2 linked regions of the Homo sapiens genome follow. The protein of the gene in region 1 binds, or shares a complex with, the protein of each later gene. Each region holds a gene or a part of one and is shown on either strand. Other genes may lie near its edges.

What was found.
Region 2: DRC9 (region 1) and DRC10 share a complex: the UniProt entries of both Homo sapiens proteins name them as parts of the nexin-dynein regulatory complex.

Annotation. Positions count from the first base shown.
Region 1 is NC_000003.12:197,903,255-197,918,715, reverse strand, and holds part of DRC9 (dynein regulatory complex protein 9), read left to right. Parts: intron 1-4,673; coding exon 4,674-4,835; coding exon of another isoform or gene 4,836-4,880; exon of another isoform or gene 4,881-4,994; intron 4,995-5,220; exon of another isoform or gene 5,221-5,316; intron 5,317-5,966; coding exon 5,967-6,041; intron 6,042-8,384; exon of another isoform or gene 8,385-10,144; intron 10,145-10,277; exon of another isoform or gene 10,278-13,032; intron 13,033-15,461. UniProt on the Homo sapiens protein: Component of the nexin-dynein regulatory complex (N-DRC), a key regulator of ciliary/flagellar motility which maintains the alignment and integrity of the distal axoneme and regulates microtubule sliding in motile axonemes.
Region 2 is NC_000012.12:113,206,633-113,222,093, reverse strand, and holds the start of DRC10 (dynein regulatory complex protein 10), read left to right. Parts: upstream 1-999; 5' UTR 1,000-1,097; intron 1,098-11,965; exon of another isoform or gene 11,966-12,093; intron 12,094-13,584; exon of another isoform or gene 13,585-13,834; 5' UTR 13,835-13,927; coding exon 13,928-14,656; intron 14,657-15,461. UniProt on the Homo sapiens protein: Component of the nexin-dynein regulatory complex (N-DRC), a key regulator of ciliary/flagellar motility which maintains the alignment and integrity of the distal axoneme and regulates microtubule sliding in motile axonemes.

The sequences.
Region 1 (15,461 bases):
GTCTTAATATTCCATTTGAGAAAGAAAAATTACCAGAACATGCTCTTGAGTTTTCAAAAGTATATTTTTGTATGTACGGACACTATTCAATAAATCCCTGTCTAACACTATTTAGATTCTGTGAGAAACAAAACTACAGTTATCAATGTGGGCTGAGGTTTTCTGCAAAAGGCTTTATTTACTTGAGTGATATATAAGGTGGACCTTGAAGGAAATCTAAGGGATTATATAGGTAAAAGGATTCCAGTTGATGAAGAAGTAAAACCATCACATTTTTGCTTTAACTCTAGTCTTCCTAAAGATTCAAACCTATACCAGGCACAGTGGCTCATGCCTGTAATCCCAGCACATTGGGAGGCCGAGGCAGGTAGATTGTTTGAGACCAGGAGTTTGAGACCAGCCTGGGCAACATGGCAAAACCCCATCTCTACCAAAAAAAAAAAAAAAAAAAAAAAAAGCAAAAAATTAGCTGGGTGTGGTGGCGTGGTAGCACGTACATGTAGGCCCAGCTACTCGGGAGGTTGAGGTGGGAGGCGGAGATTGCAGTGAGCCAAGATCGCACCATTGCACTCCAGCCTGGGCAACAGAGAGATCTTGTCTCAAAAAAAAAAAAAAAAGATTCACTGACTGCCATACAATTTGGAAATAGAAGGGAGGGAAGAGGAAGAAGGAGGAGAAATGGGCTGGGCATGGTGGCTCATGCCTGTAATCCCAGCACTTTGGGAGGCTGAGGCGGGCAGATCCCCTGAGGTCAGGAGCTGGAGACCAGCCTGGCCAACATGGTGAAACCCCATCTCTACTAAAAAGAAATTAAAAAATTAGCCAGGCATGGTGGCACATGCCTGTAATCCCAGCTACTTGGGAGGCTGAGGCAGGAGAATCGCTTGAACCCGGGAGGCAGAGGTTGCAGTGAGCCAAGATCGCACCACTGCACTCCAGCCTGGGCAACACAGCGAGACTCTGTCTCAAAAAAAAAAAAGAGAAAAGAGAAATGGGGAAGACAGGGGAGAAGGGAAGTGCGTATAGAAAGAATGGAAGAAAAACAGTGAGCCAAAAGCAGACATCTCTTAAAATTCATTTCATCAACATTTATTGAGCATATAAGTTGTGCCAGGCACTCCAGCCTGGGCAGGATTTTACAGATGAGAAAATAGGCTTAGTGAGGTCCAGTAATTTGCCTGCAATCCTACAACTTGTAAGAGAATATGAAATATTAAGACATATTTTCAAAGGGCCTATAGCATATTCTGTGCCAGAGATGCTCCGTCTCTTAGGAATGATTCCGATCTAGTTGGAATAACTGTCATACAATTAGAATGATTCTGCAGAGTTATATCAAGAAGCTAGTAGACAAAATAACTTGAAGAATTCCGTTCTGATTCATCTTAGGGACCTTTTTGAGACAGGGTCTTGCTCTGTTGCCCAGGCTAAAGTGCAATGGCATGAGCATAGCTCACTGCAGCCTCGGCCTCCGGGGCTCAAGGGAGTCTACCACTTCAGCCTCCCTAGTAGCTGGGACTACAGGCGCATGCCACCAGGCCCAGCTAATTTTTAAATTTTTTTGTAGAGACAGGTTTTCACTGTGTTGCCCAGGCTGCTCTTGAACTCCTGGGTTCAAGCGAGCCTCCTGCCTTGGTTTCCCAAAGCATTGGAATTACAGGCGTGAGCCACCCCACCAGGTTGGGGCCTAATGATACTTTAAGTCAAGCTTGTCCAACCTGTAGCCCGCAGGCCACATGCGGCCCAGGATGGCTTTGACTGGGGCCCAACACAAATTCGTAAACTTTCTTAAAACATTATGAGAGATTTTTTTGTGTGATTTTTTTTTTTTTTTAGTTCATCATTGGTGTATTTTGTGTGTGGCCCAACACAATTCTTCTTCCAGTGCGGCCCAGGGAAGCCAAAAGATTGGACACCGCTGCCTATGCTTGCTTTCCTTAACGGAGGATTTGTCCAATTACCACTTTGTTTTTTCTTCCAATGGTTACTTAGAATTAATTCCCTAGGTACTTGGGAGGCTGGAGAGAGGGGATTCCTTGAGTCTAGGAGTTCAAGACTACAGTGAGCTATGCTGGTGACACTGCACTACAGCCTGGGGGACACGGTGGACCCTATCTCAAGAAAGAAAAGAGGCTGGCTGCAGCAGTGGCTCCTGCCTGTAATCCTAGCATGTTGGGAGGCTGAGGTGGGAGGATCATTTGAGCCCAGGGTTTCGAGGCCAGCCTGGGCAACACAGTGAGACTCTGTTTCTACAATAATAATAATAATTAGCTGAGTGTGATGTCATGCACCTGTAGTCCCAACTACTCTGTAGGCTGAGGCAGGAGGATTTCTTGAGCCTGGGAGGTCAAAGTTACAGTGAGCCGTGATCATGCCACTGCACTTCAGCCTGAGTGACAGAACAAGACCGTCTCAAAAACAACAACAACAACAACAACAACAAAGCCGGGCGCAGTGGCTCATGTCTGTGATCCCAGCACTTTGAGAGACCAAGGCAGGAGGATCCCTTGAAGCCAAGAGTTTGAGACCAGCCTGGGCAACAGAGTGAGACCCCCATCTCTAAAAATATTAAAAAGTTAGCCAGGCATGGTGACATGCACCTGTAGTACTAGCTACTTGGGAAGATGGCTTGAGCCCAGGAATTGGAGGTTATAGTGAGCTGTGATCGAGCCACTACACTCCAGCCTGAGTGACAGAGGGAGATCCTGTCTCTAAACAAAAAAATTTTTTTAATACAAAAGAACTAATTCTACCCTACTTACATGGTTAAGACGAAAGGCAATTGGAGGCCAGGCGTGGTGGCTCACGCCTGTAATCCCAGCACTTTGGGAGACCGAGGCAGGTGGATCACCTGAGGTCGGGAGATCAAGACCATCCTGACCAATGTAGAGAAACCCCATCTCTACTAAAAATACAAAATTAGCTGGGTGTGGTGGTGAGCACCTGTAATCCCAGCTACTCAGAAGGCTGAGGCAGGAGGATCACTTGAACCTGGGAGGTGGAGCTTGCAGTAAGCCAAGATCATGCCACTACACTCCAGCCTGGGCAACAAGAGCGAGCCTCCATCTCAAAAAAAATGTAAAAAGAGAAGAAAGGCGGTTGGTATCTAGAGGAGCAGGTCTCGGGTTGAAGCACTTTTGTTGCTAGTCGTGTGCTTGTTTGCTGTGCCGTCAGGTCCCCTCCCTGTGGACTTACTCACACACTGATTCCGCCCAAACAGTTCTTTTCAAACAAATGTTACCTCCCTGACTAAAAGCTTTCCAAGGATTCCCATGACAGTTGGAATAAAATCTGAATTTCTCAGTTGGGTCTCCGGGGTCCTGTGTGGTGCCCTTACCGACCTCCAACCTCATCCTGTCCTCCCCTCAACCCTCACTAGGCTAGAGCCTCCGGAGCTTTCTTTCAGTTCCTGGAATGTATCCAGGTCTTGATTGCTTCAGGATTTGGGCATATACTTATTCTTTTTTTTTTTTTTAGAGTTCCCTTAACCCTATTTTTCTTTTCTTTTTCTTTCCTTTTTTTCTTTTTCTTTTCTTTTTTTTTTTTTTTTTTGAGACAGAATCTCGCTCTATCACCCAGGCTGGACTGCAGTGGCATGATCTCAGCTCACTTCAACCTCCACCTCCCGGGTTCAAGTGATTCTTCTGCCTCAGCCTCCCGAGTAGCTGGGATTACAGGCGCCCGCCACCACTCCCAGCTATTTTTCGTATTTTTAGTAGAGACGGGGTTTCACCATGTTGGCCAGGCTGGTCTCAAACTGCTGACCTCAGCTGGTCGCCATGCCTCAGCCTCCCAAAGTGCTGGGATTACAGGCGTGAGCCCCCGTGCCTGGCCAAGCCTATTTTTCATGTGGTGGGCTTACCTGTCCTTCAGGTATCGAATGAGCCATCGCTTTCCCGAGAGAGTCCTTCTCAGACCTTCCAGAGTCTAATGTACTCCTCCCTTGTTATTTCCTCCCACAGCCTCTCGAGCCTTCCTTTTCTATCATTTTGCACAATTTTTGGAAGTTTACACATGTGTTTGTCTCTTTTTAACCACCTCTCTTCTATTAGACTGTAAGCTCTATGAGGGAAGGGAATATGTCTGTTTAGATCTCCACAATTTTCCTAGCTCAGTGCCTGGTGCTGAATAAATATTTTTCTTAATGACTATTGAGTCCTCACAATTGCCAAGCACTTGGTGACCTGCAAAAAGAAAGCGTTTTCACACGTGTTCTCAAGGAAACCTAATAATCACTCTCTGAGATACTTCAGGCAGGTTGGGTGTTTGTATGTTTGTGTGTTTGTTTTATAGAAAGTAAAAAGTTGGAGATTTGACTTGGCCAAGTTCACACAGCTGGAGGCCTGGGTGGGAAGTCAGTTCTTTTGATCATTTTGACCAGTGTTCTTCCTACCAAAATGAGAAAGCTGTGTGGGACATACGGAGTACAGCAATAATGTGCCTGGGAACTAATCTCACAGCCCTGATGCGCCCTGATTCTTAGAAATGCTGTGTTACTCACTTTCATCTATACACTTCATGATTGTTGGCTAAATTTCCCATTGTGTGACAGCGGAAAAATAGTTCCAGTTCCTTATTGATTTATACGCATAAAAGGGAACCGTAAGCCGCTGACTGAACTGAATGGAGGTAGAATGTATTTTCAATTTAGAAACCTGGTCTTTCCACTACAGAGTCAGAATGAGTATATTGCTAACCTCAAGGACCAACTGCAAGAGATGAAGGCAAAATCCAACTTGGAGAATCGCTACATGAAAACCAATACCGAGCTGCAGATTGCCCAGACCCAGAAAAAGTGTAACAGAACAGAGGAACTCTTGGTGGAAGAGATTGAGGTAATCCCTGGGACATTAGCCAAGAACCCAGGAGATGGCAATTGAGCTGTCACTCCTGATCCCCTCTCAGCTAACAAAGGAGGGAGACAAAGATTTCCCTCCATCTCTATCGGCAACAGCCCCTCCACTTGAGGTTGAAAATAAAAGCCTAAATGAGGATATGCGTGTTCGCAAGCAGAGATTCCAGTGGGCTGTAGCCTCCATCTCCCGCCTCATAATGACTTTGAAAATTGGCTGCACTTTCTCTCCTTGGTCACTTCTTATTTTGGCAAACCAATCACCATTTTTCTGACTAATTATAGGGAGAGGGCAAAACGAGGTGCTTAGTTATGGCAGGATTTTGCTGCTGTTTCTTTCATCTAACCAGTACCTTTCACTCCTCCAGTAAGAAATACAGCATCGAGAGCGCTGAACTTCGTTCAAACCTGAGTTTATAGGATGAGAAGTCACGGTGAAAAATGCCAGGAGGAAGAAAGAAGTGGTAGATCTTCTTTGAGGGGAATGCTAAATGGCACACACGCACGCACGCACACACGCACGCACGCACGCACGCACACACGCAAAGCCAGGCACTAGTCCCAGCTAATCGGAGGTGAGGCAGTGAGGCAGGAGGATCCTTGAGTTTGAAGCCAGCCTGGGCAACTTCAGACTTCAACTAGGGAGACTCCCTTCTCACAAAAAAGAAAAGAAAACAAGAAAGAGCAGCAGGCAGATGGGAAGAGGGAAGCAGGAACAAACGTCCTTGGGCCGTGGAATCTGTGTGTGGGAGGACTCCTCGCTCTGAGACTGACGTGGCTCAAGGCCACGTCAACACTCTTCCTGGCACTCCGGAATCCCCCTTTTTAAGCCCCACAGCCTTGTGCCCTTGGAGCGCCGTTTCTGTCCTTCAGTGGGCACCTCTGTTCAGCTCACGGGATTGTGCTCGTCTCGTTAGGGACACACGCAGTCCACACAGTGCCGCGCCACGTGGCTCTGCAGTGTTGGTGAACAGGAGTTGCAGGGAACTGAAAGCCCGGGATCCCAGCTGGTAAAGGGAGCCTCAGCTACCGACCGAGCTGCTGCTCTCATCTTGAGAACTTCTGATTCCCAGCCCTGCGGGGAAGACGTACTGGTATCTGATTGTTCTTACAGAAACTCAGGATGAAAACCGAAGAAGAGGCCCGGACTCATACAGAGATTGAAATGTTCCTTAGAAAGGAGCAGCAGGTGGGTCCCCACAGCTTTTCTATGCTTTGACTTTTTTTTTGTACTCTGCTTATACTGAGGAAACAAAAAGAATATTTTGAAGGAAAACCAACCATCATTCTTTCAGCCTAATGAACTTTAGCTCATGTTTTCTTTCAGGGTTATGCATCTGAATAGATATCTTATATAGCTGTAATTTGAGAGAGTGCAGGTAAAATTTTGTTTTCTGCTTTTATCATTGAGCTTACATAAGAAATTTTTCGATTTCTATATTGCTGTATACTCATAATTTTCAAATTATGACTTAATTTATGACTTAAAATTTATTAAGTCAAATTATGACCTACAAATTTATGGGCTGGGCACAGTGGCTCACGCCTGTCATCCCAGCACTTTGGGAGGCCGGGGAGGGTGGATCACCTGAGTTCAGGAGTTTGGGACCAGCCTGACCAATATGGTGAAACCCTGTTTCTATTAAAAAATACAAAAATTAGCCGGGCATGGTGGTGCGCCTGTAATCCCAGCTATTCAGGAGGCTGAGGTGGGAGAATTGCTTGAACCTGGGAGGCAGAGGATGCAGTGAGCTGAGATCACGCCACCGTACTCCAGCCTAGGCAACAGAGCGAGACCCCGTCTCAAAAACAAAAACCAAAAAAAGACATAATTTTTAAATTAATTATTTTTAAATTATGACTATATTTAAAAATTTTTCCCAATAGTATAGTGGCCAATAAATAAAAAAGAAAAATAAATAAAGGCCGGACATGGTGGCTCACGCCTGTAATCCCAGCACTTTGGGAGGCAGAGGCCAGCGGATCACCTGAGGTCAGGAGTTCGAGACCAGCCTGGCCAACATGGAGAAACCCCGTCTCTACTAAAAATACAAAAATTAGCCAGGCATGGTGGCGGGCGCCTGTAATCCCAGCTACTCAGAAGGCTGAGGCAATAGAATCGCTTGAACCCAGGAGGCAGAGGTTACAGTGAGCCGAGATCATGCCACTCACTCCAGCCTGGGCAACAGAGCAAGAATCTGTCTCAAAAAAAAAAAAATTTACTAATCTTTTACACTATAAAAATAACATTCCCAGTTGAGTGAAGATTTTTAAAATTACTCATTGCTTTTCATTTTTTATGTTATTACAGTTTCTTTATAAAATAATTGAAAATTGTGTTTAACGTTCCATTGAATGGTTGTGCCACAGTTTATTTGTTACACTTTTTTTTTATATTTAGGTTGTTTCTAAAGTTTGTTATTATAAATAATGCACTCATTAAAGCTTTGCCCAAAGAACTGTTTTTCTTCATGGCAACTATTTACTAAAAGCCAATCTCAGTCATGAGATTTTTGTTTCAGAGACTAGTATTTTGTGACTTTTAATAAACATTGCTAATACTCTCGAATCTGTGCTGCCGTTAGCAGTGTTGCAGGCAGTAATTTCAAGGTCTCTTCAATATTAGTAGCCATTTTCAATATTTTTCAAAGTCTGCTAATTTAATGAGTTGTTTTATTTTTTATTTTTGCTTATTAACAGGTGAACATAACATTTTTCCACATGTTTACTCAATTTATTTCTTCTTGTGTGAAATATATATGACACGGTGGTTTTAAGAGCATTTTCAATACTAATAACCAAGCTGGGTCTATAATATATCTAAGGTTAGAATTATGTCTAAGTCTACCTGGAGTCTTTCTTTCTTTTTTTTTTTTTTTTTGTTTTGTTTTTGAGATGCAGTCTTGCTTTACTGCCCAGGCTGGAGTGCAGTGGCGTGATCTTGGCTCACTGCAACCTCGGCCTCCTGGGCTCAAGCGATTCGCCTGCCTCAGCCTCCTGAGTAGCTGGGATTACAGGCGCACGTCCAGCTAATTTTTGTATTTTTAGTAGAGATGGGGTTTCACTGTGTTGACCAGGCTGGTCTAGAACTCCTGACCTCAGGTAATCCACCTGCCTCGGCCTCCCAAAGTGCTGGGATTACAGGCGTGAGCCACCGTGCCCAGCCCCAGCTGGAGTCTTTCAAAATAACCCTATTGGATGAATAAAGAGAAAATTTTCCAGCTTAGTTATAATACAGCTTGCCTTTGGAAAAAGCTAATGAGTTTTCAGTCAAGGATTCCAAATGTGTGGTTAAAGAGGAGAATTTGTAGATGCTCTCTTGCAGGTCTTTACTGAAAAAAATACCTGGTAGGCTATTAGAATTAGGGTTCTGTAGCCCTGCACTTTAAGAATTATGTATCATGTTACCTGTTTCAAGTGTGAGATACCTGGCAGGTGTTGGATATTTATCAGTGAGTTGGTAGATAAATGGATCACGAAGGGATGACGCCAGAGTTTCCCAGATCTTCAGCCCAATAACACAAGCAATACATAAGTATATATTTTTTTATTTTTTATTTTTTAGGGACAGGGTCTCTCTCTGTTTCCCAGGCTTCAGTGCAGTGGTGCCACCATAGCTCACTGCAGCCTCAAACTCCTGGGCCCAAGTGATCCTCCCACCTCAGCCTCCTGAGTAGCTGGGACTACAGGTGTGCACCACCACGTCCAGCTACAATTTCAGACAGAAATACATAGGTTAAAGAAAGTGAAAGCCCTCTTAAATTACTCCCCTTTCTGAAGGGAAGTTTCTTCCACATGTATTTCTTTTCATATACATACTTATACCTAAAAACATACCTATTCTCAGTGGTGGTTTTTTGTTTTGTTTTGTTTTTGAGAGGAGTCTTGCTCTGTTGCCCAGGCTGGAGTGCAATGGCGCGATCTCGGCTCACTGCAACCTCTGCCTCCAGGTTCAAGTGATTCTCCTGCCAGCCTCCCGAGTAGCTGGGATTACATGCACCTGCCACCACACCTGGCTAATTTTTGTATTTTTGGTAGAGATGGGGTTTCACCATGTTGGTCAGGCTGGTCTTGAACTCCTGCCCTCAAGTGATCTGCTGGCCTCAGCCTCCCAAAGTGCTGGGATTACAGGCATGAGCCACTGCACCCGGCCTAGTATTTGTTTCTTAAGTAAATTGGATCATGCTATATATAGTGTTCCAGAGCCTGTTGTTTTCTTCTTACATTTACTTTGTTTTTAATGTTTTCTGTAGCAGTACAGCTGATTGATAGAATATATCTCACACTCAGAATATACTGAAATTTAGTGAACCATTCTGTCAGTAGATTTAGGTTGTTTCCAGGTTTTTCTGTGATAACATTGCGAAACCTTCTTGGTTCTGTCTCTAAGTGTATGGTATGTGGAAAGGTATTTCTTTTGTGTATTGCTGTGGATTTGTTAAACCCTCTAATGGTTTTTCAGTGGATTCATTTGGATTTCCTAGGTGGAAAATCTTACTGCATGCAAATAACAATTTTATATTATCCTTTTTATTATTTATATGTCTGTTTTCATTTCATGGCTTGTTGTCTAGCTAGAAAGTCCAGTGTACTTGTTGGTTGTAGTAGTGACAATGGGGAATCCTTTTTCTATTATTGGTTGTTAATACAACACCACTGTTCTGGTGTTTTAGTCAGGATTACACATGAGTTTGTCATAGTCATGCCAAGTTACTGATATGCAAGTTAGAGCACTCACAGGGAAAGAACAGGACCCTGAAACTTGGAATGAGAACACCTGCTCAGATTCGGATGAAACTGGCAAATCACTTTAAAGCTCCCTTGGCAGCGGAAGTACCCTGCCCTCCTGTGTCTGAGGACACCGCACTTCCTTTGCCTGAAGATCCTGTGATAACTTCATCTGGGAGGATGCCTTGGAAAGGGTTGCTCGCTCTTCAGACCTGGTACAGTCACCCCTGTGATAACTTCATCTGGGAGGGTGCCTTGGAAAGGGTTGCTTGCTCTTCAGACCTGGTACAGTCACCCCTGTGATAACTTCATCTGGGAGGATGCCTGGGAAAGGGGTCACTCTTCAGACCTGGTACAGTCACCACCCCTGTGATGACTTCATCTGGGAGGATGCCTGGGAAAGGGTTGCTCGCTCTTCAGACCTGGTACAGTCACCACCCCTGTGATAACTTCATCTGGGAGGGTGCCTTGGAAAGGGTTGCTCTTCAGACCTGGTACAGTCACCACCCCTGTGATAACTTCATCTGGGAGGGTGCCTTGGAAAGGGTTGCTTGCTCTTCAGACCTGGTACAGTCACCCCTGTGATAACTTCATCTGGGAGGATGCCTGGGAAAGGGGTCACTCTTCAGACGTGGTACAGTCACCCCTGTGATAACTTCATCTGGGAGGGTGCCTTGGAAAGGGTTGCTCTTCAGACCTGGTACAGTCACCCCTGTGATAACTTCATCTGGGAGGATGCCTGGGAAAGGGGTCACTCTTCAGACGTGGTACAGTCACCCCTGTGATAACTTCATCTGGGAGGATGCCTTGGAAAGGGTTGCTCTTCAGACCTGGTACAGTCACCCCTGTGATAACTTCATCTGGGAGGATGCCTGGGAAAGGGGTCACTCTTCAGACCTGGTACATTCACCCCTGTGATAACTTCATCTGGGAGGGTGCCTTGGAAAGGGATCGCTCTTCAGACCTGGTACAGTCACCCCTGTGATAACTTCATCTGGGAGGATGCCTTGGAAAGGGCTCACTGTTCAGACCTGGTACAGTCACCCCTGTGATAACTTCATCTGGGAGGATGCCTTGGAAAGGGTTGCTCGCTCTTCACACCTGGTACAGTCACCACCCCTGTGATAACTTCATCTGGGAGGATGCCTGGGAAAGGGTTGCTCTTCAGACCTGGTACAGTCACCCCTGTGATAACTTCATCTGGGAGGATGCCTGGGAAAGGGGTCACTCTTCAGACGTGGTACAGTCACCCCTGTGATAACTTCATCTGGGAGGGTGCCTTGGAAAGGGTTGCTCTTCAGACCTGGTACAGTCACCCCTGTGATAACTTCATCTGGGAGGATGCCTTGGAAAGGGTTGCTCTTCAGACCTGGTACAGTCACCCCTGTGATAACTTCATCTGGGAGGATGCCTTGGAAACGGCTCACTCTTCAGACCTGGTACAGTCACCCCTGTTGTCACTGGATCCATAACTAGGGTCAAATCTTAGCATGTTACAGTGGGACATAAAACTCAGATAACTAACTCAGAAGGAAATCACTTACACACCAAAAGAATGGTAAGATTTTGCTAATAAATATTGGAAGAAACCTGGGAAACATGTCGAGTTGATTCTAAGAGTGTTAGATCCAACAGGGTAGGCTATCACACTCCATTTGTTTAATTCATTGATATAGATGCACTTACCAGAGAGTCTGGATTTCATGGTTTAGCTTGAGCAGCAGGAGGTGACTCAACATTTGCCTACATTTGATGAGGTGGAGATGTCAGAGCTTCCCTGCTATGATTTGGGGGAGAGAATCCAAAGATGTAGGGAGACAGGAATGTCACAGTGGATTTATCATGTGTGACTTACACGTCTACCACCAAGCACCCATTCCTAACCATGAGAAGGCCCAGAAGACACTTCTTTACTAAGACATTGAGAAATAGAATAGTGAGGGGAGCATCTGCCTCTCTAAAAGCTCTGTGCTTGCTTTCCTACATAGGCAGGTGTGACCCTAAGGATGTTGTCATTGAGATGAGCTTCCTGGTATCAGTGGGGTGATGGGATCCTGAAGTGCCTCCGGATAATTGGGAGCACTTAATTGTCAGAGATAAGGTGGGCACATTTACCACGAAGGGCGGCAGAGATGTAATCAGAATGCCTTTGGCCACTGGGATTCTTGGCAATGGCTAATGAATGATGGTATCTCTAGGAACAAAATTGTTGGGCTGCCTACTCAAGTATAACAGAAAAAAATTCTGGGTCTGGTAGCCAGAAACCTGATTTGAATCACCACAGCAGAGAGTCACGGCCTCTCCCCTAGCTCTTAGGACTGAGTCAGTTCACAGCCCCAGGGCCCCTTTATGAACTGGGGTGTGAGGGTGTGGGGGGATTTCCCCCAAAGAATGAACTCTGCAGCCCTGCTGCAAGTACCTACTGTAAGTCTCCCTCTAGGCCCTACTCAGAAGACCTGTGCTATTTACAGAGTGACTGTGCACTGGGGAAAGCAAACTACCCAGGCCTTCTGAGATGACTGAAGCATTGGCTCTGAATTGATGTTCATGCACGGGGACCCAAAGTGACAGCGTGGCCACTAGTCAAAATGGGAGATTAATGGTGGTTAGGTGACAGATACCTTACTAAAAGTTTTTTTTGTTGTTTTGTTTTGTTTTCCTAATCTGGATGCGTACTCAATTAGGGAAAAAAAAAAAAGAAAAACAGTTTTTTTGTCCATTGAGTTATTTTTTCTCCTTTAATATGTTAATAAAGTAGAATACATTGAGAGAGTTGCTGATTTGAGTCATCTTTAAATTCCTGGGATAAACCCTACTAGGTCATAACGTGTTTGGCCAGCAGGAATCCTCCTGCGCGGTCTCAGTAAAACGTGTGGGTGGACAAGTGCGGCCGGGTGTCCCACCCACATACCGCTGGCAGCCGCACTCTGGTGACCGGACAGTGAGACGCCCTCCTGTCGTGTGCCTCCAGCGCCCTCTACTGACACAGCTTAGCATTTTGTCAGCTGGCAAGAAAAACGTTCACAGCAAGCATCCACTTTCACAAAGCAAAGAGGTGGATTTGGAGCTGACAGGCAGTAAATTGGTAACTGCCACAAATGAGTTTTTTTTTTTTTAATCATCAACTGTGAGATTTACTCTGTAGGTTTCTGGTAGACAAGCTTTATCAACTTCAGGAAGTATCTTTTTTTCTTGTTAAAAGTTTTTCTTCTCATCAGGATGAGTACTCAATTTTGAGATGGATTTTTTTTTCATTAATTGAGATGATATTGTTTTCTCTTCTTTAATATGTTAATAAAGGGAAATACATTAATAGACTTGCTGATGTTGAGTCATCTTCAAATTCTTGGGATAAACCTTACTCGATCATAATGTGTTATTCCTTTTTTTTTTCTTCTGAGATTGGAATTTTGTTCTTGTTGCCCAGTGGCACGATCTCAGCTCACCGCAGCCTCCGCCTCCCGAGTTCAAGTGATTCTCCTGCCTCAGCCTCCCGAGTAGCTGGGATTACAGGCGCCTGCCACCATGCCTGGGTAATTTTGTATTTTTTTTAGTGGAGACAGGGTTTCTTATGTTGGTCAGGCTGGTCTCAAACTCCTGACCTCAGGTGATCCACCCGCCTCAGCCTCCCGAAGTGCTGAGATTACAGGTGTGAGCCATCACACCCGGCCTGTTATTCCTTTAATAGACTGCTGAAAAACTGATTTATAGACTTAAAATTGTTTCTATTTTAAACTCTTTTCTTTTTCTAATTTTTAATTTTTGTGGGCACATAGTAGGTGTATATACTTATGGAGTGCATGACGTACTTTGATACAGGCGTGTGACACGTGGGAGTCACATCAGGGGAATTGGGGTCTCCATCACCTTGAGCCTTTATCCTTTGTGCTACAAATGATCTCATTACACGCGTTTGGTTCTTTTTAAATTTACAATTAAATTATTGACTATGGTCGCCCTGTTTTGCTACCAAATGCTGGGTCTTATTCATTCTTTCTACTTTTTTGTACACATTAACCATCCCCACACCCTCCGCATCCCCCACTACCTTCCCAGCTTCTGGTAACCACCCTTCTACTCTCGACCTCCATGAGTTCAATTGTTTTAATTTTTAGCTCTCACAAAGAAGAACATGTGAAGTTTGTCTTCCCCTGCCTGGTTTATTTCACTTAACATAATGACCTCAGTTCCATCTATATTGTTGCAAATGACACAATCTCATTCTGGGCCGAATAGTACGCCATTGTTTATATGTCCCACCTTTTTAAATTTATTTATTTATTTACTCCTTTTTGAGAGGGAGTCTTGCTCTGTTGCCCACAATCTTGGCTCACTGCAATCTCTGCCTCCCAGGTTCAAGCAATTCTCCTGCCTCAGCCTCCCGAGTAGCTGGGACTACAGGTGTGCGCCACCACGCCCAGCTAATTTTTGTATTTTAGTAAAGATGGGGTTTCTCCATATTGGCCAGGCTGTTCTCAAACTTCTGACCTCAGGTGATCTGCCTCGGCCTCCCAAAGTGCTGGGATTACAGGCATGAGCCACCACGCCCGGCCCCACCTTTTCTTTATCCGTTCGTCTGTTGGTAGACACTTACATTGCTTCCAAATCTTGGCTATTGTGAACAGTGCTGCAATAAACATAGGAGTGCAGACATCTCTTCCACATCTAATTTCCTTTCTTTTGGGTATATACCTAGCAGTGGAATTGCTGGATCATATGGTAGCTCTATTTTTAGTTTTTTGAAGATCCTCCAAACTGTTCTCCATAGTGGTTGTGCTAATTTACATTTCCACCAACCAATACCGTACCAGGATTCCTTTTTCTCCACAGCCTTGCTAGCATTCATTATTGCCTGTCTTTTAGATACACACCATTTTAACTGGGGCGAGATGATGTCTCGTAGTTTTGATTTGCATTTCTCCGATGATCTGTGATGCTGAGCACCTTTCTATATGTCTGTTTGGTGTTTGTGTGTCTTCTTTTCAGAAATGCCTATTCAGATCTTTGGCCCTTTAAAAAAAAAAATATATATATATATATATATATATGTATGTATATATATATGTATGTATATATATATATGTATGTATATATATGTATGTATATATATATGTATGTATATATATATGTATGTATATATATATGTGTGTGTGTATGTATGTATGTATATGTTATACACATAGAGAGAGAGAGAGACAAGATCTCACTATTGTTGCCCAGGCGGGCCTTGAACTCCGAGCTCAAGCATTCCTCCAGCCTAGGCCTCCCAAAGTGCTGGGATTATAGGTGTGAGTGACTACACTCGGCCCTTTTGGCCCATTTTTCACATTATTAGATTTTTTCCTATAGACTTGTTTGAGCTCTTCATATATTCTGTTTATTAAACCCTTGTCATATAGGTAGTTTGCAAATATTTTCTCCAGTTCTTTGGGTTGTCTTTTCACTTTAATTGTTTTGTTTGCTATGCAGAAGCCTTTTATATTTTATATATTTATTTATTGAGACAGAGTCTTGCTCTCTCGCCCAAGCTGGAGTGTAGTGGCACAATCTTGGCTCACTGCGACCTCCGCCTCCTGGGTTCAAGAGATTCTCGTGCCTCAGCCTCCCAAGTAGCTGGGACTACAGGAGTGCACTGCCATGCCCGGCTAATTTTTGTATTTTTAGTAGAGGTGGGGTTTCACCTCTGGCCTTGAAGTCCTGGCCTCAAGTGATCCACCTGCCTCAGCCTCCCATAGTGCTGGGATTACAGGTGTGAGCCACCACACCTGGCCTGTGCAGAAGCTTTTTAACTTGATATGATCCATTTGTTCATTTTTGCTTTGGTTGCTCGTGCTTGTGGGGTATTACTCAAGAAATCTTTGCCCAGTCCAATGTCCTGGAG
Region 2 (15,461 bases), on another chromosome or scaffold:
GTTCCCTCCGCGGGCTTTGCTTCTGCCTCTACAGAGGACCCAACTGGCCAGCGCTGGGGAAAGGGCCTAGGGGAAGAGGTTCAGCTACCATCCCGCTGTCCGCTGGGGCAGCCTGACCCAGGCACAAGACTCCTGTGGGGTCACCTAAGGGCGCCAGGGAGAAGAGCGAGGGAGGGAGGAAGAAGGAGGCAGGACAGCTGGCTCCAGCTCCACGTGCTCCCAGCCCCTGGCTGGGAGCCCACGTGAGGGTCGCCCTAAGAAGTCGGGGGCGAGGAGAGAGGGTGCAAAGCCCCGGCCCGGGCTGGACGGAGAGAAGCGCGGTGGAGACTTCCCTGCGCCCCCTCTGGGCCCGTACGGCCCACCTCCCACACCAGAGTGCTGCGCCGCAACCCCTTACTCCGCGTCCTCTGACCCCTGATCCCTGCCCTCTCCCTCGGGCCAAGCCGTCGCATCCCTCGGATTCTTACACGCGCCGCCCCAGCAACCCGGACCGCGCGCCGGGGTCCGCACCGCGCAGCCTAGCCCGCCGGCGCCGCCGCCAAAACCCCGAGCCCGAAGCTGTTGCAGCCGCCGCAGCCGCCGAAGCCGCCGCCACTTCAGCCACTGCCACCAGGGCAGCTGCGCCAGCTCTCCTATCCACCGCCTACCGTCCTCTCAACCCCGCTGGCCCCGCCCCATTTCCCCTTCACAGCGTCCTACTGGCTAACTGGGCTACCGTGATGAACTCTGATTGGCCAACTATCACGTCCTTCCGCAGGTCTCGCCCGCCGCCGATGCGGTACTCCCTGCCCGCCTCCTTAAGAAGGGGCGGGACGAAGAATCCACGCCCCTTACTCCTCCCTTGTTCCCCGCCTTACTCGTTGAGTCCAACCCAGAGGGAGTCCCAAGTCTTTCCATTGGTGAAAGGTCAAAATGGCGGTGCTTCTGATTGGTCAGACTTCAGGAGGTGGGGACAACTGAGCGGAACAATAAATTGAATGGTGAAAAGAAAGGTCAGTCAGACACCGAGTCTCGCCTTCTGAGATTGGCGGGTAACCTAGCAACGCAGGGACCGCGGCGGTAACTGTGGCTAGGGAAACCTGGAGCGGTCAGAGCAGGTGAGTAGCCAGTTGGGAAAGGGTCGCGGATCGGGGGAGATGTGGAATAGGGTTCAGCCCTCTGTCCTTTGGCTCCCTGAGGAATTAGAAGCCCCCGCTGCGATCTCGTCTCAGCTTCAGGACCCTGTCCCTCAGCTCCTGCCTTAGTCTGGACCTTTCGCTCCACAACCTGCAGGGAGCCGGCCTCCATTCTGCCCTTCTACCTGCCCACTTCATGGCTCCACTCCCTCATCCCTAAAACGAGGAGGACAACAGTCAAGCAGAGTCATATCGTAGTTAACTTATTTCAAGTCAAACATGGGAGCTGTGGGTGGGAGGGGAGTTTATAAGTCCCCTCCCATTTCACCCAACGGCCATACGTTCCTCGGTGAGCAGGCAATCTCACTTCAGTGTTTAAATTAGGTAGTTTTGTTTGTTTGTTTTGTTGTTGTTGTTGTTGTTTTTGCCGAGCATGGTGGCTCACGCCTGTAATCCCAGCACTTTGGGAGGCCGAGGCGGGCAGATCACTTGAGGTCAGGAGTTCTAGGCCAGCCTAGCCAGTATGGTGAAACCCCATCTCTACTGAAAATACAAAAATTAGCTGAGCATGGAGGCGCACCTGTAATCCCAACTACTCGGGAGGCTAAGGCACGAGAATCACTTGAACCCGGGAGACTTAGGTTGCAGTAAGCCAAGATAGCGCCATTGCACTCCAGCCCGGGCAACAGAGCAAGACTCTGTCTCAAATAAATAAATAAATTAGGTAATTTTTATTACACCACTTTTGCCTTTATCCTAACTTTGGAATTTAACTCCCATCTCCATCCTTAAGATGTGATCTCATTGTACCTACTGAAGACAGAGAGTTTCTTGTGATGATTAAATGAGGCTAAGGGCCGGGCGCGGTGGCTCAGCCTGTAATCCCAGCACTTTGGGAGGCCGAGGCCAGCAGATCACCTGGGCCAGCAGATCACCTGAGGCCAGGAGTTTGCGACTAGCCTGGCCAACATGGTGAAACCCTGTCTCTACTAAAAATACAAAAATTAGCCGGGCCTGGTGGCGTGTGCCTGTGATCCCAGCTACTCAGGAGGCTGAGCGGGAGAATTTCTTGAACCCGGGTGGTGGAGGTTGCAGCGAGCCGAGATCGTGCCACTGCACTCCAGTCTGGGTGATAGAGCGAGACTCCAGCTCAAAAAATAAATAAATAAATAAATAAATAAATAAGGCTGAGGTGGGAGAATTGCTTGATCGCAAGAGGCGGAGGTTGCGGTGAGCCATGATTGCACTACTGCACTCCAGCCTGGGCGACAGAGCGAAAAACCCTGTCTCAAAAAAATATATAAAAAAAAAACTTTGAGGTTCAAAAGATATTTTCATAAGAAAATGAAAAGATCAGCCACAGACACAGACATGGAGGAAATATTTGCAAATCATGTGTCATAAAAGAGTTGTATATAGAATATAAAAATAACTCTTATAACTCAATAAGAGGACAACTCAATTTTTTTAATGGGCAAAAGAGTTGAGTAGACATTTAAAAATCAAAAAGACAATACCAAGTATCATCATGTAGATAAATAAACAAACTGTAGCTTTCATATGTTGCCGGTAGGTACAGCAGAATACCAATTGGTACCACCAATCTGAAATATAGTTGGCAGTTTCTTAAAAAGTTAAACATAGGCCAGGCACAGTGGCTCGTGCCTGTAATCCCAGCACTGTAGGAGGCACAGGCAGGTGGATCACCTGAGGTCAGGAGTTCGAGACCAGCCTGGCCAACATAGCAAAACCCCGTCTCTACTAAAAATACAAAAATTAGCAGGGCATGCTGGCGGGTCCCTGTAATCCCAGCCATTTGGGAGGCTGAGGCAGGAGAATCACCTGAACCCAGGAGGCGGAGGTTGCAGTGAGCCGAGATCGTGCCACTGCACTCCAGTCTATGTGACAGAGTGAGACCCTGTCTCAAAAATAAATAAATAAAACAAAAAATAAACTTACACATAACCTAGCAATTCCACTCTTAGGAAGTTACCCCTCCCAAGTGAAAACATAAGTCCACACAAAGACTTAAATATAAATGTTCTTAGCAACATCACCCTTAACAGCCCAAAACTGGAAACAACCCAAATGTCATCAACAGGTGAATAAATAAATAACTCATGATATTTCCTTAGAATGGAATACTATTCAGCAATAAAATACTATTCAGGAATGAAATACTAATAATTGCTACAACCTGGATGAACCTCAAAAACATGTTAAGTTGAGGGTTTTTGGCCCAGTGGCTCACGCCTGTAATCCCAGCAATTTGGGAGGCCAAGGCAGGAGGATCCTAGTTTGAGCCTAGGAGTTTGAGCCTAGGAGCCTGGTAACAAAGTGAGACCCTATCTCTACAAAAAATACAAAAATTAGCCAGGCATGGTGGTATGCACCTGTAGTCCCAACTATTCAGAAGGCTGAGGTGGGAGGATCACCTGAGCCTGGGGAGGTCAAGGCTACAGTAATCCATGGTTGCACTGCTGCACTCTAGCCTGCGTGACAGAGTAAGACCCTGTCTATTAAAAAAAAAAGGCAGCCGGGCACGGTGGCTCACGCCTGTAAATCCCAGCACTTTGGGAGGCCAAGGCAGGCAGATCACCTGAGGTAGGGAATTTGAGACCAGCCTGACCAACATGGAGAAACCCCGTCTCTACTAAAAATACAAAAAAAAAAAATTAGCTGCGCGTGGTGGCGCATGCCTGTAATCCCAGCTACTTGGGAGGCTGAGGCAGGAGAATCGCTTGAACCCAGGAGGCAGAGGTTGCAGTGAGCCGAGATCACGCCATGGCACTCCAGCCTGGGAAACGAGAGCAAAACTCCATCTCAAAAAAAAAAAAAAAAGGTCAGGGTTTTTCAACCTCAGCTCTATTGATGTTTTGGGTGAGAAAATTCTTTGTTGTGGGGAACTATCCTGCCAATTGTAGGATATTTAGCAATATTACGAGCCTCTACCTACAAGATGCCAGTAGTAGCCTCTCTCAGTTGTGACAAGCAAATGCATCTCCCGATTATTGCCAAATGTCTTCTGGAGGGCAAAGTTGCCCCAGGTTGAAAACCACTGTGCTAAGCAAAAAGTCAGATGCAAACAATTACATACTGCATGATCCCATTTATATGAACTATCCAGGAAAGTTACATATGAGTGGAGGCCAGGGGCAGTGGCTCACGCTTGCAATTCCAGCACTTTGGGAGGCCAAGGAAGGTGGATTACTTGAGCCCGGGAGTTCAAGACCAGCCTGGGCAACATGCTGAAACCCTGTCTCTCCTAAAAACGTAAAAATTAGCCAAGCGTGGTAACACGCACCTGTAATCCCAGCTACTTGGGAGGCTGAGGCACGAGAATTGCTTGAACCAGGGGGGTGGAGGTTGCAGTGAGCCGAGATTACGCCACTGCACTCCAGCCTGGGCGACAGAGCGAGACTCAGTTTCAAAAACAAAACAACCACAACAAAAAATGTGAGTGGAAGCAGAGATTGTTTGCAGATTAGCTCATGGGAATTTGGGGGGAGTGATAGAAATGTTCTAAAACTGGATTGTAGTGATGTGGCAACTTCAGATACATTTACAAAAATAGTCACTGAGTTTTACACTTACAATGGGTGAATTTTATGGTAATGTAAATTATACCTCAATAGAGCTGTAAAAAAAAAAAAATTACACGTGTGATTAGTACTATGCAGGAAAGGTGAGAGAGTTTCCACAGGTTGTAAAGTGCTGTCTGTTCCAGTCTGAGGAGGGGTAGCCATTGAGCTAAGACCTAAAGAATGAGAAATTGTTAATCTAGGGAGAAATTATTCCTGGGGGGTTGGTTTCTGACAAAAGGAACATTATACATTAGTGCCTGAGAGCAGGACGGGTTTGAGATAGGCTGTTTTTTGTTTTGTTTTTTTGAGACAGAGCCTTTCTCTGTTGCCCAGGCTGGAGTGCAGTGGTGCAATCTCAGCTCACTGCAACCTACGCCTCTTGGGTTCAAGCGATTCTCCTGCCTCAGCCTACCAGGTAGCTGGAATTACAGGTGCCCAACACCATGCGCTGCTAATTTCTGTATTTTTAGTAGAGACTGGGTTTCACCATGATAGCCAGGCTTGGTCTCGAACTCTTGACCTCAGGTGATCCACCCACCTCGGCCTCCCAAAGTGCTCCCAAAGTCCTGTAATCCCAAAGATTACAGGAGTGAGCCACCGCACCCAACCCTGTTTCGTTTAATTTTAACTCTAGTCCCAGTTGGCAAACTGATTTCACTGCCCAGTAAAGGGTTACAACCTTAAGATTTTATTTTTTAAGCAGTTTTAGATTCACAGCAAAATTGAGAGAAAGGTAGAGAGAGTTCCTACATACCCCCTATTCCCACATGCACAGCCTGCCCCACCGTCAACCTCCCCCACCAGAGTGGTGCATTTGTTACAGTTGATGAACCTACATTGACACATCAGCAGCAGCATCCAAATTCCATAGTTTACATAAGGGATAAGGGTTCACGCTTGGTGTTGTACATTCTGTGAATTTGGACAAATGTATAATGATGGTATCCATCATTGTAGTAAGGTACATAGTATTTTCACTGCCCTAAAAATCCTCCCTGTTCTGCCTATTCATCCCTCCCTTCCCCCAGCCCTTAGACAACACTGATCTTTTTACTATCTCCATAGTTTTGCCTTTGCCAGAATGTCATATAGTTGGAGTGATACCATATGCAGCTTCTTCAGATTGGCTTCTTTCACTTAGTGATATGCATTTAAGTTTCTTCCATGTCTTTTCGTGGCTTGACAGCTCATTTCTTTTTAACACTGAATAATCCTGTATTCCATTGTCGGGATGCCCCACTGTTTATCTACTCAGCTCCTGAAGGACATCTTGGTTGCTTCCAAATTTTGGCAGTTGTGAATGAAGCTGCTATAAATATCCATAAGCTTTTTGTGTGTGCAGGTTTTTGTGTGCACATGAGTTTTCAACTCCTTTGGGTAAACACCAAGGAGTGCAATTACTGGATCGTACAGTAAGAGCAGGTTTAAATTTGTAAGAAAACAACTGTCTTCCCAAGTGGCCGCACCATGTTGCATTCCCACCAGCAATGACAGAGTTTCTGCTTCACATCCTCACCAGCATTTGGAGTTGTCGGTGTTCTAGATTTTGTCCATTCTAATAGGTGTGTAGTAGTTAAATATTTTTTTCAAGTTGGAGAAGTTGATTATAGAATAATCTAAATTCACTACTAGGAAATTCTTCCTTCTGTCTGAAACTGCCAAAGTGATGCTGTCTACACTTAGATATAACCAGAAATAAGCATTTCTAAAGTGACACTGTAACCAAAAGAGGAATTAAAATTCCTGATGAACTGATTGATAAGGAGGGGAGACTGGACAATGGGGAGTGATTTAAGGGAACTTGGTCTTCTTCGGTCACTAACAGGAGAACATGAATAATGCAGAAACCAGCAAAATTAAAAACAAAATAGTAAAAAGGAGTAAAAACTGCTTCTGTTTTGACTTTTTATAAAGCCTTTGATACAAAAACATATACCATATTATTTTGTGGAAAAGCACATCTATTTTAAGAAACATTAAAGTGTTGATATTAACATAATTTTTGAAGTAGTACTAAAAGTCATAAAAGCGTAACACTTTTGAGCAAGGATTTCATTTCATTCCCTCAACAGTGCTGTGTCCCATTTCACAGGTAGAACGTCAAGGCTTAGAGAGGTTAATCGACTTACCCAAAGCCACACAGCCAGGAAGTGGTGAGACACTGGAATTGCATTCCAAATGTGTTTTTCGTTTCCACTTCAGTAATGAGGAAATGAAAGCCCAGAAGATCAAGTGGACTTGCCCAAGGCTATATAGCTTGTGGTCAGTGGAAAGTATTTCATCATAACCAGCAACATAGAAATCTGTCCCGGGGGGCATGTTCCCTCCCAATCTGAGTCACTATCCCATGTCCTCTGTCTCCAAAGCACCAGATAATCCTGGAGCCTGCAGCCACCCAGCCAGCATTACAAACAGGGTCCCAACTGTCAATACCTCCAGCATTCATTGCTGCAGCCCTAGCCTGGGAATCTTTTACAGACCAGTTGTAAACCATAAAACACAGGTTCTCAAAAAGAACAAGAGAGGAGGATTGGGTAATAGTTCAAAATTAGTCACAGAAAGAAAAAAAAAACCACTCAACTATGAAAAAGTAAAAAATTCATTACATTTAAAACTTTTGTTTAAAAAATTCCAAGCCCTGAGTAAAGGGATGCAAAAGAATTCATAGGCCAATTGTTGGCCTACAGTTCTATCATGAAAATATGACTCTCTTTTCTGGCTCCAATTCAGGACATATATATTTTGCAAAACAACATTATCCTATTATGCCAGCATCTCCCAGTGAGGAGACAAGCCTGTTGGTAAATCTGGGTTTGCCATCTCATTTATTCAACAGTGATTTCTTTTTCTTTTCTCTTTTTTTCTCTTTTTTTTTTTTTTTTTTTTTGAGACGGAGTCTCACGCTGTCACCCAGGCTGGAGTGTGCAGTGGTGCGATCTCAGCTCACTGCAACTTCCATTTCCCTGGTTCAAGTGATTCTCCTGCCTCAGCCTCCCAAGTAGTTGGGATTACAGGCATGTTTCACCACACCCGGCTAATTTTTGTATTTTTAGTAGAGATGTTTCGCCATATTGCCCAGGCTGGTCTCAAACTCCTGACCTCAGGTGATCCACCTGCCTCGGCCTCCCACAGTGCTGGAATTACAGGTGTGAGCCACTGAGCCCAACCGCAACAGTGATTTCTTTATTGAGCACCTACTGTATAGTAGTTGGTTGGGATAGCAGGTTTCATCATGAATCTGTTGCTTCTTTCTAGCCCCTCACTTTCCCCCTCCCTAGACTTGAAAGCCTCAGATAAAACATACAGAGTTCGGAAGAAAGCTAGAGGTTTGGAGGGTAGTGAGATCTTTCTGAGGCTAAAAAGAAAATTCCTCTTGAGCCCAGGAGTTCAAGACCAGCCTGGGCAACATAGCAAGACCTTGGTTTTTTTGTTTTTTGTTTTTGTTTTTTTTGAGACAGAGTCTCACTGTGTCACCCAGGCTGGAGTGCAGTGCTGCAATCTCGGCTCACTGCAACCTCCACCTCCCAGGTTCAAGCAATTCTCCCGCCTCAGCCTCCACAGGTGCCCACCACCATGCCCAGCTAATTTTTGTATTTTTAGTAGGGACAGGGTTTCACCATGTTGGCCAGGTTGGTCTCAAACTCCTGACCTCAAGTGATCAACCTGCCTTAGCCTCCCAAAGTGGTGGCATTACAGGCGTGGGCCACTGCGCCCGGCCAGAAGTCAATCTTAAAATCAAGAGACTGGACAGAATAGTGCTGATGGGGTGCAGGCCCTGTCACTTCCTAGCTGTAAACTAACTAGAATCATCTAACCTCTCTCTCTGTCTCCCTTTCTTCATCTGTGAAATAGAGGTAATAATAGCACCTACCTCATAGGGTTGTTGCAAGGATTAAAGGAATTAATTCGTATATAGCATTCAGAACAGTGTCTGCTACACAGTAAGTTCTCAAGAACTTACTTAGCTAATGTTAAAATGGTATTCCTTAAAATGAGATCCGGATGAGGATGGAAAAACTACCTATCAGGTACTATGCTTATTACCTGGGTGATGAAATAATCTGTACACCAAACCCCCATGACATGAAATTTACCTATATAACAAACCTGCACATGTAACCCGAACCTAAATTAAGAGTGAATTTAAAAAGAGAGAGAGAAATCCATTTCCCACACTCCAGTTGTTTTGGTTTTTTTTTTTTTTTTTTTTTTTTTTTTAGCACCCTCTGACTTTTCCACTTGCCAGTTTGGATTTGTAGGGTAGTTGTTAAGTGTTGGGTTTTTTCCTTCTCTCCAGGGGGAAAAAATATATAATTTAGTTCAAATCTTTTTTTTCCTCAAAATATTCTAAGAGCAAAATTAATAAAATATCCAACAAGCCTGTTTGAATGAAGACGAGGTATAATTTGCATGATAAAGATATATTTCCATTTATAAAGTTCATCAGCAGAATTAATGACAAATAAAGGGAATATCCAATTAAAGTTTCCCATCCATTAACAATTTGCTTCACTCTCAGGGCAGGAATTTTAAACGGAGATGCTTAAGTTGGAAATGATTTAAATATTAAGGTTGGTGGCATTAAAAAGGACATGAAATGATCATATTAGGATTCAAGGAAAAGAGATTCTCCAGTCATTTTTGTCGTCAGAGTCAGATGCATTTCCCCTCAATCCTAGTTCCACGGGCTTTATCTTGTTCACCCAAATGAGCTGTCAAGAAATGATGGGTGTCATCATAATCAAAGAAAACAAGTTTGCCCTTTAAAGCAAAAGAGGTAATTTGGCTGAAAGCAAATTGGAAACATTTCATGTAACGTTGCGTTTCCAGCCGCACTCTCTGAAGAATTCAGGCATTTTGATTTATGCCTGAGAGCTTTGGGGTACAATGGAGAGGACTGCATTCATTAACTACCTTGTTCACATTCATCCTGTAGCCATGGGCAAAGATCCTTCATCCTCAGAGAGCCTGAGAAATCTCCATGGCTGTCCCTAAAACTTTTTTTTCACTTACAAGATAGGATCTAGGCTGGGCATGGTGGCTCACGCCTGTAATCCCACCACTTTGGGAGGCCAAGGTGGGCAGATCACCTGAGGTCAGGAGTTTGAGACCAGACTGGCCAACATGATGAAACCCTGTCTCTATTAAAAATACAAAATTAGGCTAGCGTGGTGGTGCACGCCTGTAATCCCAGCTACTTGGGAGGCTGAGACAGGAGACTGCTTGTACCTGGGAGGCAGAGGTTGCAGTGAGCCCAAATCACACCATTGCACTCCAGCCTGGGTGACAACAGCAAAACTCCAGCTTAAAAAAAAAAAAAAAAAAGAGGAGAGATAGGATCTCGCTCTGTCACCCAGGCTGGAGTGCAGTGGTGCGATCATGGCTCACTGTAGCCTCAACCTCCCTGGCTCAAGCAATCCTCCTGCCTCAGCTCCCCAAATAGCGGGGACTACAGGCACCTGCCACCATGACAGGCTAATTTTTTTTTTAACTTTTTGTAGAGGTCTCATTTTGTTGCCCATGCTGATCTTGAACTCCTGGGCTCAAGGAATCTTCCCTCCTTGGCCTCCCAAAGTGCTTGGATTGCAGCTGTGAGCCACCATGCCCAGCCTCCTAAAACTTTGTCTTCAGGAAAAGCCTCAAAGGATCTCATGAGATTCATTAGGGAGCAGGAAGTGTGTGTGAATCAAAGTGATTGAAGATAATTCCCAATCCTCTGCTCCCAAAGGGGCTTCTGGTTTGTTTTTTGTTTTTTTGTTTTTTTAAGAGACAAGATCTCACTCTGTTGCTCAGGCTGGAATGCAGTGGCCTGATCATAGCTCACTGCATCCTCAAACTCCTGGGCTCAACAAATCCTCCTGCCTCAGCCTCCCAAAGTGTTGGGATTACGGGCGTGAACCATGATACCTGGCCTGATATTGAATACATTCTGCCTTGCCAAGGAACTAAACATCCTTAGCACCTGATCTGGCCTGCCTTTCTTTTTCGTTCTTAGTCACTTTGGGTGTTTCTTTGATTCCCTGCCATTCTCTTGGTGTGTTCTTTGGTTTGGTGAGTTGAAGTTATCTTTTGTGGCTTCAAGTGTCACTTCCTTCTCCTGGGCAACATAGCAAGACCCTATATCTACAAAAATAAAAATACAATAATTAGCTGGGAATGGTGGCACGTGCCTGTAGTATCAGCTACTCGGGAGCATGAGGCAGGAGGACTGTTTGAGCCCAGGAAGTCGAGGTTGCAGTGAGCCATGATCGTGCCACTGCACTCCCTGGATAATGGGAAGGCCAAGACACCATTGTCCACTGCAGTATGGCAGCTAGAGCTCAATGAGTTTAAAAGTGAGCTCATTGTCCTCCCCTCCAAATGTCCTCTCCTCTCCCAATTTCTGCCATAGTTTCTTAAGGGCCCCATCTTTCTCTACCAGTCACCCAAACTCAAAACTCTTTCACTCAAGTCCTAATGATTCTTTCTTCAAAACATTTCTCACATCTACAGACAATATGAAAATAAAAGTGGCACAGGTAACCTGTAAGTAGTAACTTACAGCTTTCATTGGTGCTTACTTCTTAGGAGAGGGGGAAAGACAGACAATAAACAAATAAACAGGTGCATATAGGGATGTCAGATGGTGATACTTAACCTGGAGAACGAACAGGATAAGGGGGAAGAGATGAAGAAGAATCAGGGTGAGGGATGGGGATGTTATGGGGGGTGTCCATCTGAGACATGGTGTTGGGGGGTGAGCAGACATCCTGGGCAGTAGGTGTTCTTTTTTTTTTTTTTTTCTTTTTTTCTTTTTTAAGAGATGGGGACTTGCTATGTTGCCTGGGCTGGTCTTGAACTCCTGGGCTCAAGCGATCCTCCCACTTCAACCTCCCAAAGTGCTAGGATTACAGGCGTGAGCCCCTGTGCTTGGCCAAGGCAGTAGGTGTTCGTTCAGCAATTGCATCAGAAATCATTAAAGTCCTGGACTTGGGATTTTCGTTTTCCTGGGTTAGTGCTATTAGTTATTTATTGAACATTTTTTACAGCGTGCAGGCTTCTCATTCATCCTGAGGACTCTTGTTTTACAGCTGAGGAAGCCCAAGCTCTGGAGGATTAAATGACCAGCCCAGAGACCCCCAGCAAGGATTTGAACCCAAGTGGGGCTGTGCAAAGCTAGTACTTTTAGCCATTGTACTATGAAAGCAATATAAATTACTGATCTCTGATTGCCCTATAGATTTTTCTGAAACAGTTATTTATTTGTCTATCTATCTTTTGAAACAGAGTCTCATTCTGTTGCCCAGGCCGGAGTACAGTGATGCAAACTTGGCTTACTGCAACCTCCGCCTCCTAGGTTCAAGAGATTCTCATGCCTCAGCCTCCTGAGTAACTGGGGTTAACCTGAGTAACAGGTGCGTACCACCATGCCTGGCATTCTCTCGTATTTTTATTAGAGACGGGGTTTCGCCATGTTGGCCAGGCTTGTCTTGAACTCCTGACCTCAGATGATCCACCTCCCTCGGCCTCCCACAGTGCTGTGATTACAGGTGTGAGCTACCATGCCTGGCCTGAAATAGTCTTTTAACTAAACTTTTTACTTTGTAATAATTGTAGATTTATAGAAAAGTTGCAAAGATAGTACAGAGAGTTCCCGTATGCCCTCCATTCTGCTCCCCCTAATGTTAACATCTTAGATAACCTTGATGTGTTTGTCAAAACCACAAAATTAGGCCCGGCACGGTGGCTCCTGTCTGTATTCCCAGCACTGGGAGGCTAAGGTGGGAGGATTGCTTGAGCCTAGGAGTTCAAGATCAGTCTGGGCAACATAGTGGAGCTCATCTCTATAAAAAGTTAAAAAATTAGCTAGGCATCGAGCACCTATAGTCCTAGCTACTTGAGAGGCTGAGACAGGAGGATCACTTGAGCCCAGTAGGTCGAGGCTGGAGTGAGCCATGGTCACACTATTGCACTCCAGCCAGGGTAACAGAGCGCCTACAAAATTAATGTTGGTACAATGCTATTAACTAAACTTTAGACTAGATTTGGATTTGGATTTGGATTTCTCCAGTTCCACTAATGTCCTTTTTCCACTCCAGAACCCAATCCAGAATACAACATTACATTTAGTGAAACAGTTTTTTAAATTGTATTTCAAAGTTATATTTCACCCACCAATTTTTAAAATCAGTACTTAAAAATGGCCAGGCGTGGTGGCTCAGGCCTGTAATCCCAGCACTTTGGGAGGCAAAGGCAGGTGGATTGAGAACAGCCTGGCAAACATGGCAAAACCCTGTCTCTACTAAAAATACAAAGATTAGCCAGGCGTGGTGGTGTGCACCTGTAGTCCCAGCTGCTCAGGAGGCTGAGGCAGGAGAATCACTTGAACCCAGGAGGCAGAGGTTGCAGTGAGCCGAGATCATGGCACTGCACTGCAGCCTGGGCGACAGAGCAAGACTCTGTCTCAAAACAAATAAACAAACAAACCAAAAAACTTTAAAATCAGTGAAAATGTGCCATTCCTAGTCCTGTTAGTCTTACACTGCATTCTGCCCTGTCCCTGTCCTGCTCAGACATAGGCTGAGGCCTGTGGTTCCGTCGCCCAGGCTGCTTGTCAGTTGGTTTCCTGCTGGTTTTGGCCAAGGGCAGTAGAAAGAAACCAGGGTATTTCTCCTCCCCCACCGCCACCCTTCTTTAATCTGCATTTCCGGCAATGTCTCTAGCTCCTCTGGGAACTGATGGCTGTGGTTCAAACTTCCCCTGGGTGACCCTGGGCCCCAGGCTCACCATCTCTTCATGTGGTGGCTTCCTGCCATTGACAATTGCGGGATGGCTTTGTCTTCCCCTGGTTGGCCTCTCAACTCTCCCATCACTGATGTAACCAGTCTCTGGTTTTAAATCCTTAGAATGCTGTCTGTATGCCTGGCTGGTCCCCGCCTGACACATGTGCCTGAGATGCCTCCACACTTGGTCTTCCTGCCCTTGTGGCCCTAACACCCTCACAAAGCTGAAAACTGCTTCCAGTGAAAGGTTCTGTGTAAAAGCGACAGAGGACCTAAGATGAACTCTTGATGTCAACAGTTGTGGTTTCTGCAGCCACACTAACCACACAGATGTCAGCACAGCTGCACTCACACCTACTTCTTCATTTTGCAGGATGGCCAGAGACAATAAAAGCACGAGACCCAAGTAGTCTACCGAAGTCTCCATCTCTGTGGACCTACAGAGGCACAGAGGGCTGCTCACAAGATGGCTTTAGACATTCTCGCCATGGCCCCTTTGTATCAGGCCCCTGCCATCAACAGAATAGGGCCAAAGACAGACCCATCTAAAAGGCCAGCTGATCCACTAAAACCCTTGGTTCTCTCTAGGACCAAACTCACCACCATTGAGGCCAAAAGGATCATGTCCATCCTGGATGAGGCGATCTACAAGGTGGAGCTGGTGACCTTGCTGTCGTATGTGGCATCCAACAGAGAGGATATGGAGGGGATGCTGGGGGAGGACGTCATGAGGGCAGTGAGAGAGCATGAGGATCTCTGCCAGGTCCTCCTTGAAAACGTCAGGTGCCTGAAAGAGAAAGAAAGGCAATTGCAGGAGCAGAAAGAGGCTGAGGAGGAAGGGTGGCTCAGAGACCGCCTCCTTTCCATAGAGCTGCAGAAATCCAGCCTCTCACCACTTATGCAGCAGATCAAAGACTCCACCAAGAACGTCCTTAGACTCTTGCTCAGCAACCCCCAGGCTGCTAGGCTCCTGCAGATGCAGACACAGGGTAGAAGTGCAGAAGCCCAGAATTTTATTGACAGCCTGATAGAGCTCCGTGGTTTCCTGTTTGAAAAACTACTCACTAGTCCCATGGAAGCGAGGGATAAGGCCCAGTTCTTACAGGATATCAGTAGACAGAATAGTAATAACCAACAAATCATTGATACTCTTGAAAAGGAATTGGCGGAGAGAATGAAGAACAGGAATGCAGAGGTATTGTTTCATAGTATTGCTGAAATTACTGAAGAAGCCACACAAATCTTTTGTTGGTTGGGTTTTTCCTCAATGATTGATTTTTTTTTTAAGATGGAGTCTCGCTCTGTTGTCCAGACTAGAGTGCAGTGGTGTAATCTCGACTCACTGCAACCTCTGCCTCCCAGGTTCAAGCGATTCTCCCACCACAGCCTCCCAAGTAGTTGGGATTACAGGCGTATGCCACCACGCCCGGCTAATTTTTGTATTTTTAGTAGAGACAGGTTTTCGCCATGTTGGCCAGGCTGGTCTAGAACTCCTGACCTCAAGTGATCCTCCTGCTTTGGCCTCCCAAAGTGCTGGCCACTGCGCCTGGCCAATTGATTGACTGATTTTTTTGAGACAGGGTCTCACTCTGTTGCCCAGGCTAGAGTGCAGTGGCATGATCACAGCACACTGCAGCCTCCATCTCTCAGGCTTAAGCAATCCTCCCATCTCACCCTCCCAAGTAGCTGAGACTACAGGTGTGTGTCACCATGCCTGGCTAATTTTTTGATTGTTTGTAAAGATGGGCTCTTGCTACGTTGCCCAGGTTGGTCTCGAACTTCTGGGTTCAAGAGATCCTTCCGCCTTGGCCTCCCAAAGTGCTGGGGTTACAGGCATGAGCCACTATGCCCGGCCTCCCCAGTGATTTTTTTTTTTTTAAGATGGAGTCTTGCTGTGTCACCCAGGCTAAAGTGCAGTGGCAACATCTTGATTCACTGCAACCTCCGCCTCCTGTGTTGGGAATGGGTGCTCGGTGTCGCCAAAATCAACACTGAGACAA